Linked DNA regions of Homo sapiens: region 2 is linked to region 1. A link means that fine-mapping ties the variant in region 1 to the expression of a gene that starts in the linked region. Tissue or cell type: whole blood. Region 1 holds a variant in brackets; the other region holds the start of a gene. All regions are shown on one strand. Distances are from middle to middle.

Evidence for each region. PIP is the estimated chance that this variant, and not a neighbour inherited with it, causes the effect.
Region 2: ADPRH starts here. The variant in region 1 is fine-mapped to the expression of ADPRH in whole blood (INTERVAL, PIP 0.96).

The regions. Positions count from the first base shown.
Region 1 is chr3:119,782,523-119,790,629 of GRCh38, forward strand. All of the region lies in intron 1 of NR1I2 (nuclear receptor subfamily 1 group I member 2), which reads left to right. Among named protein-coding and RNA genes, the nearest start is that of NR1I2, 4.5 kb to the left of the region's middle. The variant G/A (reference allele first, on the strand shown) is at 3,458.
Region 2 is chr3:119,574,931-119,583,037 of GRCh38, forward strand. It overlaps ADPRH (ADP-ribosylarginine hydrolase), which reads left to right and starts at 4,562. Exons shown (of 5, transcript NM_001125.4): 1 at 4,562-4,921; 2 at 5,621-5,706; 3 at 7,204-7,537. The coding sequence starts at 7,240. RefSeq lists enhancers at 4,166-4,667, 4,452-4,551, 5,492-5,711, 6,816-8,015, 7,179-7,478 and a silencer at 4,732-4,871.

The sequences.
Region 1 (8,107 bases):
TGCACTAGCCTCCTAGAAAAATCACCACAGGAGAAGCCTTAACTACTGCATGAGTTACCACAAGTCACACATACAACCAGCTCCCTGTTACAGGGCTGGAGTCCCTGGACCCAGGAAATACCACCTCCAAGGACTGTGGGAGCTGGGGACTATGGGAACTGGGATCAACTCAGTCCTGATTCCTTTTGGCCTGCTGGGTTAGTGCTGGCAGCCCCCTGAGGCCAAGGACAGCAGCATGACAGTCACCAGGACTCACCACTTCAAGGAGGGGTCCCTCAGAGCACCTGCCATACCCCTGCACAGTGCTGCGGCTGAGTTGGCTTCAAACCAGTGAGTTTTCTACCTCTACTATTGAAAGGGCACCTTGTCCCACAGAACCGAGTCTTGCCTGCATGTGGTCAGTGCCACCAGGTCCTTCTTCTCTCCACTTTACAGCCCAGCTCGGCTGAAGCTATGGCCAGAGGCACTGCTTTAAGGCCACTCCATATCTAGGACAGGTCAACAGACACCTCTGAGGCCACTGAGTCTTGACTCAATGAATCAGCTATAGCAGGCACTATTCCTCTCCCACATGGCCTCTAATGATATGGTCAGAGTTGAAAGGATGCTAAGGGAGGCCTCAGAGGCTTATTTAATCAGTTGGTTAATGGGAAAAAGTATTTTGTGGTACACAAATACGCTTTAAAAATATTTTAGTTATGTCATAAAAGTCTAAACCTGGGGTTGACAAACTATGGCTCACAGGCTAACTCTGGCCCACCAGCTGTTTTTATAAATGAAGCTTTATTGGAACACAGCCATGCCCATTCGTTATGTATTGTATATGGCTGTTTTTGCCCTACAACATCCTTTCAACTCTGGCCATATCATTAGAGGCCATGTGGGAGAGGAATAGTGCCTGCTATAGCTGATTCATTGAGTCAGCAAAATTGACCAATTGCGAAAGAGACAGTATGGCCCACAAAGCCTAAAATATTAACTATCTGGCCTTTAACAGAAAAAGTTTGCCAACTCCTGATCTAAAAGCTGTCAACTTGTTCCAAAATTATTATGGAATAAACCCAAGACAACCACAAAACTGACTAGACTAGGTTTTTTAGGTAATAACTTTTTAAATTATAAAGTAATACATGATTTCATGCTCCTTGAAAATGAGAAAGCAGTATAGATAAACCTAAATTCACCTTTGGCCATTCTGTCAATCCTAATCTCCAGTTTCCCCAAAAGTACTTAGTGTGATATATTTACTGCCAGACCATTGTGTCTGTGTGTGTGTTCATCTATGCATAGATGGACTATTAAACCTATCTGTTGCCATGTTGTTCTAATTCTGTTTTTCCACTCAATAGCAAGACTTGGAGACTTTCCATATCTGTATAGAGCTCTACTTCATTTATTTTAACTGCTACGTCATATTTCACAGTGTACACTTCTTTTATTTAGCCGTTTTCTTTTCGATAGATATTTAAGCTTTTCCAATTTTTCAGTCTTACCAATGAACCTCACTGTGTTTGTCTGCTTCTAGACATGTGCACGTATTGCACTAGAGGAACTACTAAGACGTTGAATTGCCACATCACAGGATATATGTGGTTCAATTTTTGGCTGCCAAACAGCCCTCCACAGTACCCGAACCGACTGTACTCCCACCAGCAGAGAAGGATAGTTACTGTTCCTCCACACTCCAAACAATGCTTGCTGTTTATTCAGTATTTTATTATTTTTTCCATTGAATTAGTGCAAATGACAACCCATTATTTCAATATTTTAATTTCCCTGATTATTAATGAAGTTGAGCATTCTTTTTATAGGACCCCTCTTGGCCATTGTATTTCTCTTCTTAAATTACCTATTCATATCCTTAGCTTATTTTATGTCGGATTTTTTTTCTTCTTTGTAGGAGTTTTTTATTTATTCTCAATGCAAATTATTTGATATGTGTGTAATATTCTCTCTAAGCTTTGTTTAAATCATACTTTTTAGCCAACAGAAATTTTTACTATTATTGTTGTTGTTATTTTGATGTAGTTGAATCTGTTAGTTTCCCTCTTTCTGGATTTTACTCTTTGAGGCTGATTTTTAAAAGATTTCTCAACTTCCAAAATTATGAAGCTACTTTGGTGCACCTTCCTGTAATACTTTTATTTAAAAAGTTAGTCTTTATTCACCTGGCACTTATTGCAATACATTATTTCAATACTATTTATTGAAAAGTCCATCTTTTTCCTATTTGTTTGAAATATCACCTCTATCATGTACTAAATTCCCACTTACACATGTCCATTTCTGTGTCCTTTTGTATTTATTTCCTATTCCTGAGCCAATTTCCACTATAATGTTTACCTTTTCTACTTGATTTTTTCCCCCAATAAATAGAAAATCTATTTTGTGTTTTGATATTTTGCCTAGTTACCTTATGGAATTCTCTTAATAGTTATAAAAGCTTATCAGTTGATTCCTTTGGAATTTCTAGTTAGACAAACATATCATCTATATATAGTAAGAGTTTTGCTCCTTCCTTTCCAATCTTTACAAACCTTAATTTTTTGTGTCTTATTGGTTTTTCTTTGCCATTCAGCATAATGCTGAGTAGTAGCCATGAAAGTAGATAGTCTCAGAAGTGATGCATACAGTTGTGTGGGTTCTATACTGCACAATTCTAGGAGATACTCTTTACAAACACTTAGATGTCCTAGGAATTCTTGTCATGTTCCTGATTTCCATTTTTATTTTGTACTATGAACTCATTTGGAAACTTCTCTTTGGGACTTGTTGAGATTGAAATTGTTTTCCTCTAGAGGATTTATTTTTGCTTTTGCCAGGAACCTGAGGACAGAACTAACTGGGACCACCATAAGCTTGGGGTCTACTGGCCACACAAATAGTGAGAATCCTGACCCAAACTTACTTGATTGCAGGCCTGTTGTTAAGAATTTCAAAGGAGACTTTTCTTTTTGCTCTACCCAGAGCCAAGGCTGAGAAGGCCTGGGATAGACCTGTCTCCCTCCATGGTTTCTACTGAGGATGTCACCCTTAGGGGATCTTGAGTTTATAGTCTATGATCTGGTTAGGCTCCAGGCTTTGTCTCCTATTCTACCATTAAAATCCAGGCCCCAGGCCTACAGGAGTCCAGAAAACTCCAGGATGATCATGACTTCCCTTTCTCATGCCTCTGGCTTAGCATAATCTTATAAATTTTGGCCTCTTGAGACTTCCTTTACTTTCCTACCAGCTCAATCCTGCATGAAAAATGACATTCTTAAAAATTTAGTATTTCTAGGTGCTGCATACCAGGAGGATTTTCTGTAACCAACTTCTCCATCATAGTGCCAGCAATAAAATCTTTATTTTTTATTTTAATGAGATTGATTCTAATGCTTCTCCAATAAGATAGCTAGTAAAAGTGTTTAGTAACTATTCCATATCAAGTTAGTGAAGCTCTCTTCTATTCCTCTTG[G/A]TTAACCAAGAATTTTAAATCATGAATGAATATTGAGTTTTATTAAATGCTGTTAAGCATTGATTAATTTCCTTATCATATCTCCATAGTTAATTATATAGCTCATCCCAAGGGTGATAGAAGCAGAGATGATCCAATAGCCACTAGGACCCTTGGAATGCAGACCCATGATTTTTCCATTAAAAAGAACAATAAATTCAGGGAACGTGGACAACATTAATTCAAATTCTTAGTGTGGTTGCCACGTTCTGTTTGTTGAGCCATCAGACTCTTGCCCTCACACTTCAGATATTGGTGTCCTGGGCACAACCTGGGGAGGACAGGAGGAATGTGTAGGGAACCTCTCTTGCATACAGGGGCTTTTTAGGTGGCACAATTTGAAGGGGGCTGGGAAAAGTTCCCTGCAACACCTCCTGAACCTCTTTGAAACATCGATATAACAAACTGAATATCCAACTGGAAATTGACATAAAGAGACATATCCAAATCCCTCATGTAATGTTTGAAATAATTTTCCTGGATCTGTGTAAGTTCCAAAGAGTCAAACTATAAAACCACAGGCAACACTGGCACTACACATGCATTGATAAGACATAGGCAGTTAACTCAGAGGCCACTGTGTCCTGTTAAATATTGGAAGAGGGTACTGTGTGTACTTATGACCTGGGCTGGTGCCAGCTCTCAACCCTGATCTGTGTCTAGTAACCTTCTGACCTCTTGGATCTGATGACCAAGTCCCAGGAAGCATAAAGGCCAATTTTCATTTATGGCCCCCTGAAGAGAGCAGCTGACTTCTCTTTCTTGAATTCATAAACCGTGACTTTGGCTATCTGAGTTTCCTCTGGAGGCCTGCCCCATGCCAGGGCCAGTGAGGAGGTTTTGTTAATAATACTTGATTTGTTTCATAAAGAATTTAAAACATATAGCCTCATTTTGCCCCCATGAATTCTGTGAAAAAACAACTTGCATCATGTATCTATTTACATGACAGGAAGAATCAGAATAAGGGAAAAGAAAAGATGTTCTGGCCAGGCATGGTGGATCATGCCTGTAATCCCAGCACCTTGGGAGGCCGAGGCAGGTGGATCACTTGAGGTCAGGAGTTTAAGACCAGCCTGGCCAAAATGGCGAAAACCCGTCTCTACTAAAAATACAAAAATAATCCAGGTGTGGTGGCACACACCTGTAATTCCAGCTACTTGGGAGGCTGAGGCACGAGAATCATTTGAACCCAGAAGGTGGAGGTTGCAGTGAGCAGAGATCATACCATGGCACTTCAACCTAGGGGACAGAGTGAGACTGCCTCCAAAAAAAAAAAAAAAGTTCCGTCATTAATTGACTTCATGAACTGGAACACACCCCAGAGCCCCAGTTTCCTCATTTGCAAAAGGGATAATAAGAACTGCCCTGCCCCCGACTCCCTTATTCAACTTGGGATAAGCCCTGCCCTGCCTTCCTCACAGGCACCTTGACATGAAGTTGTAATTTTGAAATCATTTTGTAAACAGCAAAACTTGTGCAAATGTGAGTTAAATTCACCAAACGTCTCCCTTCACTGAACAACGTCAATGGTTTTATAGGCATCACTTGCCTGCATCTTAGAAATTCAGTATTCTTATATTACATTCCCCTTACTTGCTTTTTTCTCTTTATCCTCTGGCCAGTTCTGCTATTAATATGTGTGTGTGTGTGTGTGTGTGTGTGTGTGTGTGTGTGTGTGTGTGTGTGGTGTGTATGTGTATCTTGGAGATAGTAGGATGATTATATATATATTTAATTATGCGTGTGTGTATATATATGTGTGTATACACACATAATTAAATATATGTAATCGTGTGTATGTATATGTATGTATACACACACACATAATTAAATATAATCCTGCTATCTCCAAGAGTTTCTATCCCAAAGATTATGATTTTTGTTTTTTTATCCATTTACCCCCTTTTACTTAGACTCTGTTGCTTCAAATTCAAGTTGCCCACTCTTCTCTTCCCATAATCTCAGTGACCTGGTTCCAAAGCTTGTGCTTTGACTCATTTGAAGACTAAATTTATCTGTATGTCCTCCCCACATCCTTTTCCTGGGAAGGAACTATCTCACCCTCAAAGTACATTGACTTTTTAAAAAATTATTATTATTATTACTTTAAGAGACAGGGTCTTGCTGTGTCACCTAGGCTGGAGAGCAGTGGTATGATCATGGCTCACTGCAGTCTCGAACTCCTGGGCTCAAGTGATCCTCCCGCCTCAGCCCCCCAGAGAGCTGGGACTACAGGTGTGTGCCACCATGCCCAGACACTTTTAAAATTTATTTTTGGTAGAGACAAAGTCTCATGTTGTTGCCCAGGTTCATCTGAAATTCCTGGCCTCAAGTGATCCTCCTGCCTCAGCCCCCCTAAGCATTGGGATTACAGGTGTGAGCCACCATCCCTGGCCATCATTATACAAATTTATTTATTTATTTTCATTTGATTGAGACAAGGTGTCATTCTCTTGCCCAGGCTGCAGTGCAGTGGGACAATCATGGCTCACTGTAGCCTTGACCTCCTGGGCTCAAGTGTTCTTCCTGCCTCAGCCTCCCAAGTAGCTGGGACTACAGGCACATGTCACCACACTTGGCTAATTTTTTATTTTTTTGTAGAGATGGCATCTCACTGTATTGCCCAGACTTGTCTCGAACTCCTGGCCTCAAATGATCCTCCTGTTTCAGCTTCCCTAAGTGCTGGGATTACAGGTGTGAGGCACTGTGCCCGGCCTGTATATTGACTTTAAACAACAATTTATAATGTGAGTCATTTCACATATCTCTTTGATTATTTATTTTATTTCCTAGCACCATAAAGTTGTTTTTATTGACAAGATCATCTTCTCCATGCCAGTCTGTTTGTGTACTGCCAATTTTCTGTCTGGTTAGTTGGATTTCCCTGCTACTACTGCAAGTGTGGACTGCAGACCCATAGCATCAGCTCACCTGGGAGCTTGTGAGATGCTGAAGCTCAGACCCACCACAGACCTACTGAATGGGAATTTGCATTTTCATAAGCTCCTGGGTGATCTGTATGTACTTGAAAGCTGGAGCATCACTCTCTTAGATTGTAAGCACAGGCTCCAGGTTACCTTAAACGGGGGCACTTCTGAAGCAGGCATGGGAGAGAAGGAAGGCAAAAATCTCAATTGCCAGGGCCCTGACCTCCTAGAGATTAAAATGTAGTTCAGAACTCAGGTTGGGATCAAATGCACTTTAATTGACATGGTTATCTTTTTCTTCCTGATTGTAGTGCTTTTAACTACTGTATTAGTCCATGTTCACATTGCTGATAAAGACATACCTGAGACTGGGTAAATTACAAAGAAAAAAAGGTTCAATGGACTCACAGTTCCATGTGGCTGGGGAGGCCTCACAAACATGGTGGAAGGCAAACGGCATGTCTTACATGGTGTCAGGCAAGAGAGAGAATGAGAACCAAGCGAAAGGGGTTTCCCCTTATAAAACCATCAGATCTCATGAGACTTATTCACTGCCATGAGAACAGTATTGGGGGAACCGCCCCCATGATTCAATTACCTTCCACCAGGTCCCTCCCACATATGTAGCATTATGCAAGCTACAATTCCAGATGAGATTTTGGTGGGGACACAGCCAAACCATATCAACTATTGATGTTACTTTCCTTTGTTTCCTTTCTTTCTGCTGCTTCTCCTCCTCACAACTTCTGTTTCCTCGGGGCCCTTCCTGCTTCACAGCTTCCCTGTCCTGCCTTCTCTCTGAGTGCACTGTGGCTGCCATGCACAGGGCAGGACTGAGGCACCCCAACCAGTCTACTATTTTGGCTTCCTTTTCAATTTAAATTCAATTTAAATATTATTTAAATATTTGATCAACATTTATTTGGTGATGTTCTTTTTTTAATTTGTAAAATATACAGAAGGAGCAGGATTGAAAAATTAATTAGTTCTGGTAAAATTCAAATAACAAATTTTACCATCTTAAGCATTTCTAAGTGTATAGCTCAATAATGTGAAGTATGTTTTCATCGTTGTGCAGCCAATCTCCAGAGGTTTTTCATCTTTTAAGATGGAAACTCTACCCATTAAACAACTCCCATTCCCCTCACCCCACAGCCCCTGGCAACCACCATTCTACTTTCTGCTTCCATGAGCTTGACTACTATACCTCATATTTGTCTTTCTGTGACTGGCTTATTTCACTTAGCATAATGTCCTCAAGGTTCATCCGTATTGTAGCATGTGTTAGAATTTCCTTTTTTTTAAGGCTGACTCATATTCTATTGTAGTATGTCCCATGTTTTGTTTATCCATTCATCAGTTGATGAAATTTGGGTTGCTTCTACATTTTGTCTATTGCGAATAGTGCTGCTGTGAACATCAGTGTACAAATATCTCTTCAAGACCCCGATTTCAGTTCTTTTTGGATATACATCCAGAAATGGTTGCTGAATTATATGATAATTCTATTTCAATTTTCTGAGAAATTGCCATATTGTTATCTATAATGGCTACACCATTTTTACATTCCTACCACCTGAGTCCAAGGTTCCCATTTGTCTACAGCCTTGCCAACACTTGTTATTTTCTGTTTATGTGATAGCGGCCATCCTGAATATAAAGTGATGTTTCATTATGGTTT
Region 2 (8,107 bases), 210 kb before region 1:
CATTAGGGAGAGTAATCTGCTTTACTCAAAGGCTACTGATTTAGATGTGAATCTCATCTTAAAAAATACCTGCACAGAAACATCTAGAACAATGTTTGACCAAATATCTGGGCACTGTGGCCTAGCTAGGCTGACAAAATTAGCCATCACAGATGCTCTCTAAATCTTCTTGAATTGAATTGACAACACAGGATATGTGAGCAGCTACTTTTGGTTACTTATCTTCAAACTCATCAAGTTGTATACCCGAAATATGTACAGCTTTTTGTATCTCAGTCATATCTCAATAACGTGATTTAAGAAAACATATAAACACTTTTTTGGTAATTTTAAAAATATGTTAGCAGCCGAAAAATGAGATCACTTGGGTGCTCTAGAAGAGCAGGGGCTGTCAGGGCCTAGCATATACTTACACAGCAGGTATTCAATGTCTGAAGAATGTATAAAGATCATTCTTGTAAGTGACCAGTTTGTTAAGAACAGTGTCATTGTTCCGACCTTATAGATGAAGTGTCTGAAATATCTTAAGATCAGGTCCGAGGGCTACAAGTTTATTTCTCAGCAACAGCCTCAGCATAGCAATTGATTCTGTATTGGTGAGTAATGAAGATGCCTATGATGTGTCTTCCTCAATAAAACTAAGAGCAAGGAACCAACTATGCAATATATTTGTCTTTCCAGGACCTATACTAATGCCTAGCACCTAGTAAGATGCCAAGTAACTATTTGTTCTTCTTGGCAGAACAACATTCACTGTTTCCTTTGCAAACAAACCCTGATTTTTGTAAAAGAACCTACCTCTACCTCTCAGGGAAGATGTGTCTATCCTTGATCTAAGGGAAACATCATAATCCAGCCTGCCTGCCAGGAATTGGTTTAGACTTCTGGAGGATCTTTGAGAATAGTTTCTTCATCTTGAAAGAAGAAACACTCTCTTTTTCCACTGGACACTGTCTATAACTGTAACTGCAATGTGTTATTATGCATACACATTATCTTGACTGCCTAGTTAAATAATCAGAGCTAAACAAAAATTTTCGAAGAAATTAACAGTAAATGGTTAATAGGCAACGCCTCTTGGGCTCGCTAGCAGACACAAAATAGCAAAATGGTTTAAACAAAAACAAACCGAAGGATAAGACCTCTATATACATTTGATAAAATAAATTAAAATGGGGAAAATATGATCTTGTGCCAATTAAAAACGTCAGTCTGGGGATAAAAATAACTGAAGATAGTAGGTCAGAAAGATAAGAAGAACAGGGTCTTTCTTTGATGATAGTATACAGTTGCTAAATTAACCCTGGGACTTCTTACCTTTAGACATTTTGTTACATAAGATAATAAGTGCCATTATTATTTAAGCCCAGTGAGTATGTGGTGTTTTGGGGGTGGGGAAGAGTGATGGTTATTTGCCGTTATTTGGAGCTGGAAACATGCTAACTGATAAATTATCCTTTTGGTTTATAGGACAATGTCCTTGATGCCCAAAAACATTTTCTAATTTTGACAGAAGAGAAAGGATGTCAGTAGGTGTTAACTAATGTGAAAAGAAGGTAGAATGGCTCATGTGTGTGATGGAGATGAGAACTGGGAATACAGAGAGATATCTGACCTGGTAGTAATTTTTTCTTGCATGACTACTACATTGATAAGCACTGTGCTAAAATTTTTCAATTAATTATTTCATGCAATCTTCAAACCAACTTTATGAAATATGTACTATTATTTTTCCTACTTAATAACAGAAAGTGAAGCTTAGCAAGATGAAGTGACTTGTCTAAAATCACTTACTCAAGCTAGTGTTTTTTGTTTGTTTGTTTTGTTTTGAGATGGAGTCTCACTCTGTCGCCCAGGTTGGAGTGCAGTGGCACGATCTCAGCTCACTGCAACCTCCGCCTCCTGGGTTCAAGCAATTCTCCTGCCTTGGCCTCCCGAGTAGCTGGGATTACAGGCACCCACCACCATGCCCGGCTAATTTTTTATTTTTAGTAGAGACAGGGTTTCACCATGTTGGTCAGGCTGGTCTCGAACTCCTGACCTCATGATCCACCTGCCTTGGCCTCCCAAAGTGCTGGGATTACAGGCGTGAGCCACCGTGCCTGGCCCCCAAGTGTTGTTACAAGGGTTTGAAACCAGATAGCGTGGATGTGTCGGGAGTCTATGCTAATGGTCACAAAGTTCATAGGCACCATAAAGTTCAAAGCAAACTAATTGCTAACAACCCCAGTTTTTCTGTTTGTTTTTGTTTGTTTGTTTGTGTTTTGAGACAGGGTCTTGCTCTGTCGTCCAGGCTGGAGTGCAGTGGCACAATCTCAGCTCACTGCAACCTCTGCTTCCTGGGCTCAAGCAGTCCTCCCACCTCAGCCTCCTGAGTAGCTCAGACCACAGGCGCATGCCTGGATAATTTTTGTATTTTTTGTAGAGAACAGGTTTCACCATGTTGCCCAGGCTGGTCTCGAACTCCTGGTCTCAAGCAATCTGTCCCCCTTGGCCTCCCAAAGTACTGGGATTACAGGTATGAACCACTGTGCCCAGCCCCAGTTATTCTTTACATTTAAGTCAAAAACGAAAACAAAAAATCACCCTTTCCCATGGATTCTCACAGAAAGATCACTACATAATATGAACAATATCCTCAGCAGACATCTTAAGCTGAAACTGTGTTGAGTTTTATCGGGATGCTTATTATTCAAAATGTCTCTTACTACAGAACTTGCTTTGACTGCATCCTCAGAGGCTGAAAATCTTTGACAGTTGAAAGAATGAAGGATGTGCCATCCCCAAATATGCCATATAATATATTGATTACTTTGAGTTGAAAACATTAGAGAAATTATAGTTTCAGAAAGGGTAAAACTGAGGGCTGACCTGATTAGGCCTGACACTTAATTTGCCTTGCTTGCTTTTGGTCACTTGCTTCTAGTCGATTTTAAAACCTGCATAGCTAAAAGTCATGTAGCTAGACGATACATAACTAAATTCCACTTGCCTCCTTATAGATAACTTCTCTGATAGGACACCATGGAAAATATTGCTTAAGTTATTTTTCAGGAACTTAGAGTCAGTTCTTGTCCAGTTCAAGCCACCAGCCCTTCATCTTGGCCTGCGTGAGTGTCCAATGGGTGACCTTTTGACATCAGAAGGCCCAAAACTCCACTCTCAGATCATGCTAACGTCACGATTTTGTGAACATGTGTTCTATGAACAGCCATGAAGATTGACTATGCTTGCTCAGATTACCGATTGCCTCACTTTTCCTTACCTCATCTTTCTCTGAACCTTGGACCACCTTCCTCCCCTATCCCATAAGCACTCCTAAAATTCCATCTTTGGAAAGGCACATTTGAGGCCTGTTCTCCAGTCTCCTGTCTTGGCTGCCTTGTGAATACACCCTTTCTCTACTGCAAAACTTGTGCGCCTCAGTGATTGGCATACTGTGTGAAAGACAAATGAGCCTGGTTCCCTGACAGGAGCTGAGCTGTCTCTTCCTGCATGCAGCCAGCAATAAAGATTCCTCTAGGAGAGGTATGTTCTCCACGCCAGAGCGAGAAAATAGCTCTCATCACCAGAGATTTGGAACTGGAGGTGGCATTTGGACTGGAGTAAACATTCTTGCAAAGTAACCATTATCTTCCACCTGTTTTACACCCCACCCCCCATATATCTCCTAGGGGCTCCCCTAGAAATTTTTTACCACCCTAGCCGGATTTTCTTTGTCCTGTCACTTCTTCTTAAATTTATCACTCTTTTTCTAAAAAGTATAAAAGCATCTTGCTTTGGACACTTTCTTCAGGATTCAGTCTCTTAACATCCCCATGTACATGTAAAATTAATAAAATTTGTATACTTTTCTCTTGTTAATCTGCCTAGTGTCAATTTGGCTTCTAGATGCAGCTGATTAGCTCACTAAGAGCTAGAGGGTGTAGGGGGTTGGAGGTGATCTCTGCCTCCCTTATTGGTGAACTTGATTTTTGTAAACACTCAAAAGTCACTTAGGCTAGAGTTGGAGATGGAGATGGTTATTCACTGGGAAGGCCACAAGAGAATGTTTTAAAGTGATGGAAATATTTCATATCTCGATTATGGTGTAAGGACATTTCATTATATATAAATTATATATCAATTTTTTAAAAAGCTCTCAGACCAAGGCTAGTCATTACAGCAAGAAAATAGGCATAGCAAATTTAAAACTTTGGAGAAATATATAGAATATTTGCATATGGTGATTCTGATTTGCTTTAAAAGTGACATGATTAATGTATTTAGACAAAAATACTCTTCGTTTTTCTTTGCTTTTATTTACGATCAGGATACAAGAATTCTACGCTGCTGCCAAATAAATGACTAGTTAAAATTAACTAACTGAATCCTTAACAACCATTCTAAGAGGCAGATATTATTATCCCACTTTATGCGTGAGGGCCCAGAACCCTGGCAAGGGCGGCACACTCAGTACGCTCTTCAAGCATCTGGGCACACCCGGTCCACTACAGTCCTACAAAGTCGGACGTGAGCACGGGCGAAGGCGTCAGCCGGGGCCACACGGGAGTCACTGACCACAGCCAGGCGAGAGCCGGCTTTCCGGTGCCGCCACATTCCGGGCACCAGGCTCCGGGCTCTTCAGAGCATTTGGGGCGGGCGACGGAGGTCCCGTCCACTCTCGCTTGGGTGCAGAAGGGCGCGGCGGTGCCAGGAAGCCGCCTTGGAGGCTCCAAGATTAGCTCACTCAGCGCGGCCAAGCGCAGGTGCGGGGGCCCTCGCCGCCACCCTGCTTATCTGGGGACAGTCCCGGAACCCGGTGACCCGGCTCCGCCCCAACCCGCGCCCTCGTCCACCCGCAGCAGCCAAGGCCTCTTCCCCGGCCCCGGGAGCCCGCGCCACGCCCGTCGCTCGCGCGTTCCAGTCCAGGCTACAGCAGGTATCGCGATCCCGGCCCTCGGCCCCGCGCTCCCCTCCCCCGCCCCTGGCGCTCTCCGAGTGTGGCCGACCATGAGGATTCCCAGTCTTGCAAATCGTGGGAGCGTGTCAACCGCCCCGTTTCTTTCCAAAGCCGGGCATGGCCCGGAAGCAGCTGATCAGATCTTAGTTCTGAATGTATAGTTCGGGTACGAGAATGTGACCCGTGAAAGTTCAGAGGAGTTAAGTAATTACAGCGTTCTGAAAGCGAACGTTAAAGGGAATTTACAACCGAAAAAAGATGCCGGTCTTCTTCCCCCATCCCAGCTTGCAATTCACAGAAGCACACATTAGGGTGGAGCCAGAAGGAATTACGGAAAGGACAATGAGGACATTGAGAGGGAGGGTATGGGGGGTTAAAGTTAGTCCTCCGAGGCCAAGAAGCAGAGTGTCTTGGCCTAGTGTCTGAAAATCGCAGCGCAGGACGGAACTTCCGAGAGCCTATACCTCCCCACTTCCCCCTCCAGTTTACAGATGGGCAAACCGCTGTCCCGGGTGTCTGTCAGGTCTAGTAGCCCAGAATCTCAGTGCCTAGGCTTCACTGTAAATAATAAACTATGTAAATAACATTTACAAATATCCTTTGTGAGCTCAGAAACTCAGCATTACCAGTAACTGGGTAGTGGAACGCATCCATCTTCGTCGTTTACTCCTTCTCCAGGGGCTCTCCAGCCTGCATTCCATGGCCAACAGCAGTGCAGCTGCAGAAGCACTTCTGGAAGCCTCCTGACTTGAACTAGACCTTGGGTAAATAGGGTTTAGATAAGTGGAGGGGAGGGAAAAGTTTCACCTGAGGGGAGAATGAGCTAGTCTGCCAGACCCTTATAAAAGTATTGGCCTGGATGGGATGGAGGGCTTTGACCTGAAAGCCACAGGGAGAAGGGAACCCTGAGGAATTGGCTGAAAGAGGGGGGTTCTTAGGAAATGCACCAACAGGGAAGCCAGCGCTTTACCAGGGATTTCATTCATGGTGGGTATATTATTAATAGAGATTCGAATTCTCTAGAAGCTGATCATTTCTAAGAGAAACAATATTTAAACATTACTGTCGAAGGAAAGGTTGTGGGGAGAAAATGTTCTAGTTCTAAAACAGAACACCCATTTTCCCTGGTTGTATATGAATAATACAAATATGTCAAAAATCAAGCTTACTATGTGCCAAGCACTCTAAGAACTTTTTTTTTTTTTTTTTTTTTGAGACAGAGTCTTGGTCTGTCGCCCAGGCTGGAGTGCAGTGGCACAATCTCGGCTCACTGCAACCTCTGCCTCCTGGGTTCAAGCGATTCTCCTGCCTCAGCCTCCTGAGTAGCTGGGACTACAGGCATGCACCACCATACCCGGCTAATTTTTGTATTTTTAGTAGAGATGGGGTTTCACCCTGTTGGCCAGGCTGGTCTCGATCTCCTGACCTCAGATGAGCCACCCACCTCGGCCTCCCAAAGTGCTGAGATTACAGGCGTGAGCCACCGCGTCCAGCCAACTTTATGAAATTTAATTTATTTATTCCTAACAACAAATCCAGGAGGTTGTTACTTTTTAAAATCAGTGCCATTTTATAAATGTGGAGGCTGAGGCACCAAGAGGTTGCCCAAGGTAAGAAGATCTGGACTGAGGCTGAGTGGTGTGATACCAAGCATCCTGGCTTGGCTGGAATCAGATTTGGGTTCCAGTACTTCCACTCCTCTTGTTTTGTGAATTTAGCTTATCTGAGCCTTCATTTTCTTATCTGTGAAATGCATACTGTAATCCCTCCCTATTAGTGAGACAATGAATGTGCAGGTGCTTTGTGAACTACACATTGTGACACTAATAGGAAGTGTAAAGCCTTGCACTTCTAAGGCCAAATCCCAGCTAAGAAGAGCAAATGATGAGCTGGGTTTGACTTGCAGAATTTAGTGGGCTTACTACTCACCAAGAGGCAAGAGATACAGTTGTAGTTATGATGATAGACTTTGGAGTCAGATGGACCTATGTTGGGATCCCAGCCCTGCCACTTATTGGCTCTGTGACCTGAGACAAGTCACTGAACATTTCTCAAACTGCATTATCTCCATGGTCCTCCATTTGTTCATACATAAAATGGGCTTTATATTCCTCATAGAGCAGTGATGAGGATTACATGAGATGCCACTGATACAATGTCTGCAAGTAGTGAGTGCTCAATAAAACATAGCTAGAGTCGTTGTTTTTTCTGATTCTTCTTGCTCCTCATCCTATTTCCTTTGTCTTAATTTCCCCACAAAGACACCCTCTCCAGAGCCCAGCAATTGTGAGGGACTGATGGAGAAGTATGTGGCTGCTATGGTGCTGAGTGCAGCTGGAGATGCCCTGGGGTACTACAATGGGAAGTGGGAGTTCCTCCAGGATGGGGAGAAGATACACCGGCAGTTGGCCCAGCTGGGCGGCTTGGATGCCCTAGACGTGGGAAGGTGGAGAGTTAGTGACGACACAGTGATGCACTTGGCCACAGCAGAAGCTCTTGTGGAAGCTGGGAAAGCCCCTAAGTTGACTCAACTGTATTACCTCCTTGCTAAGCATTACCAAGACTGCATGGAAGACATGGATGGGCGGGCACCAGGTGAGCACAGCCGGTGGGAGGTGCAAGGAGGGCAAAGAATAAAACAGCCTTGAGGAAATCATTAAGAATGTTGATGGAGATTTAAATAACAGAGACAATAGTGTTTGTAAATGTGATAAAAATAGAAATAACGGCCATGGTGGTGGCTCATACCTGTAATTCCAGCTCTTTGGGAGGCCAAGGTGAGAGAATCACTTGAACCCAGGAGTTCAAGACAAGCCTGAGCAATATACGGAGACCCTGTCTCTAGAATGGGGTAGCCAATCCCTCTTCTAGAGACAGGTACTGATCCGTGGCTTGTTAGGAACTGGAGCACACAGCAGGAAGTGAGTGATGGGCGAAGGAGCATCATCACCTGAGCTCTGCCTCCATCAGATCAGTGGCGCATTAGATTCTCATAGGAGCCTGAACCCTGTTGGGAACTGCACATGCGAGGGATCTAGATTGTGGGCTTCTTATGAGAATCTAATGTCTGATGATCTGTGGTGGAACAGTTTTGTCCCAAAACCTCCCCCAACCAACCCCGTCCATGGAAAAATTATCTTCTGTAAAACCGGTCGCTGGTGCCAA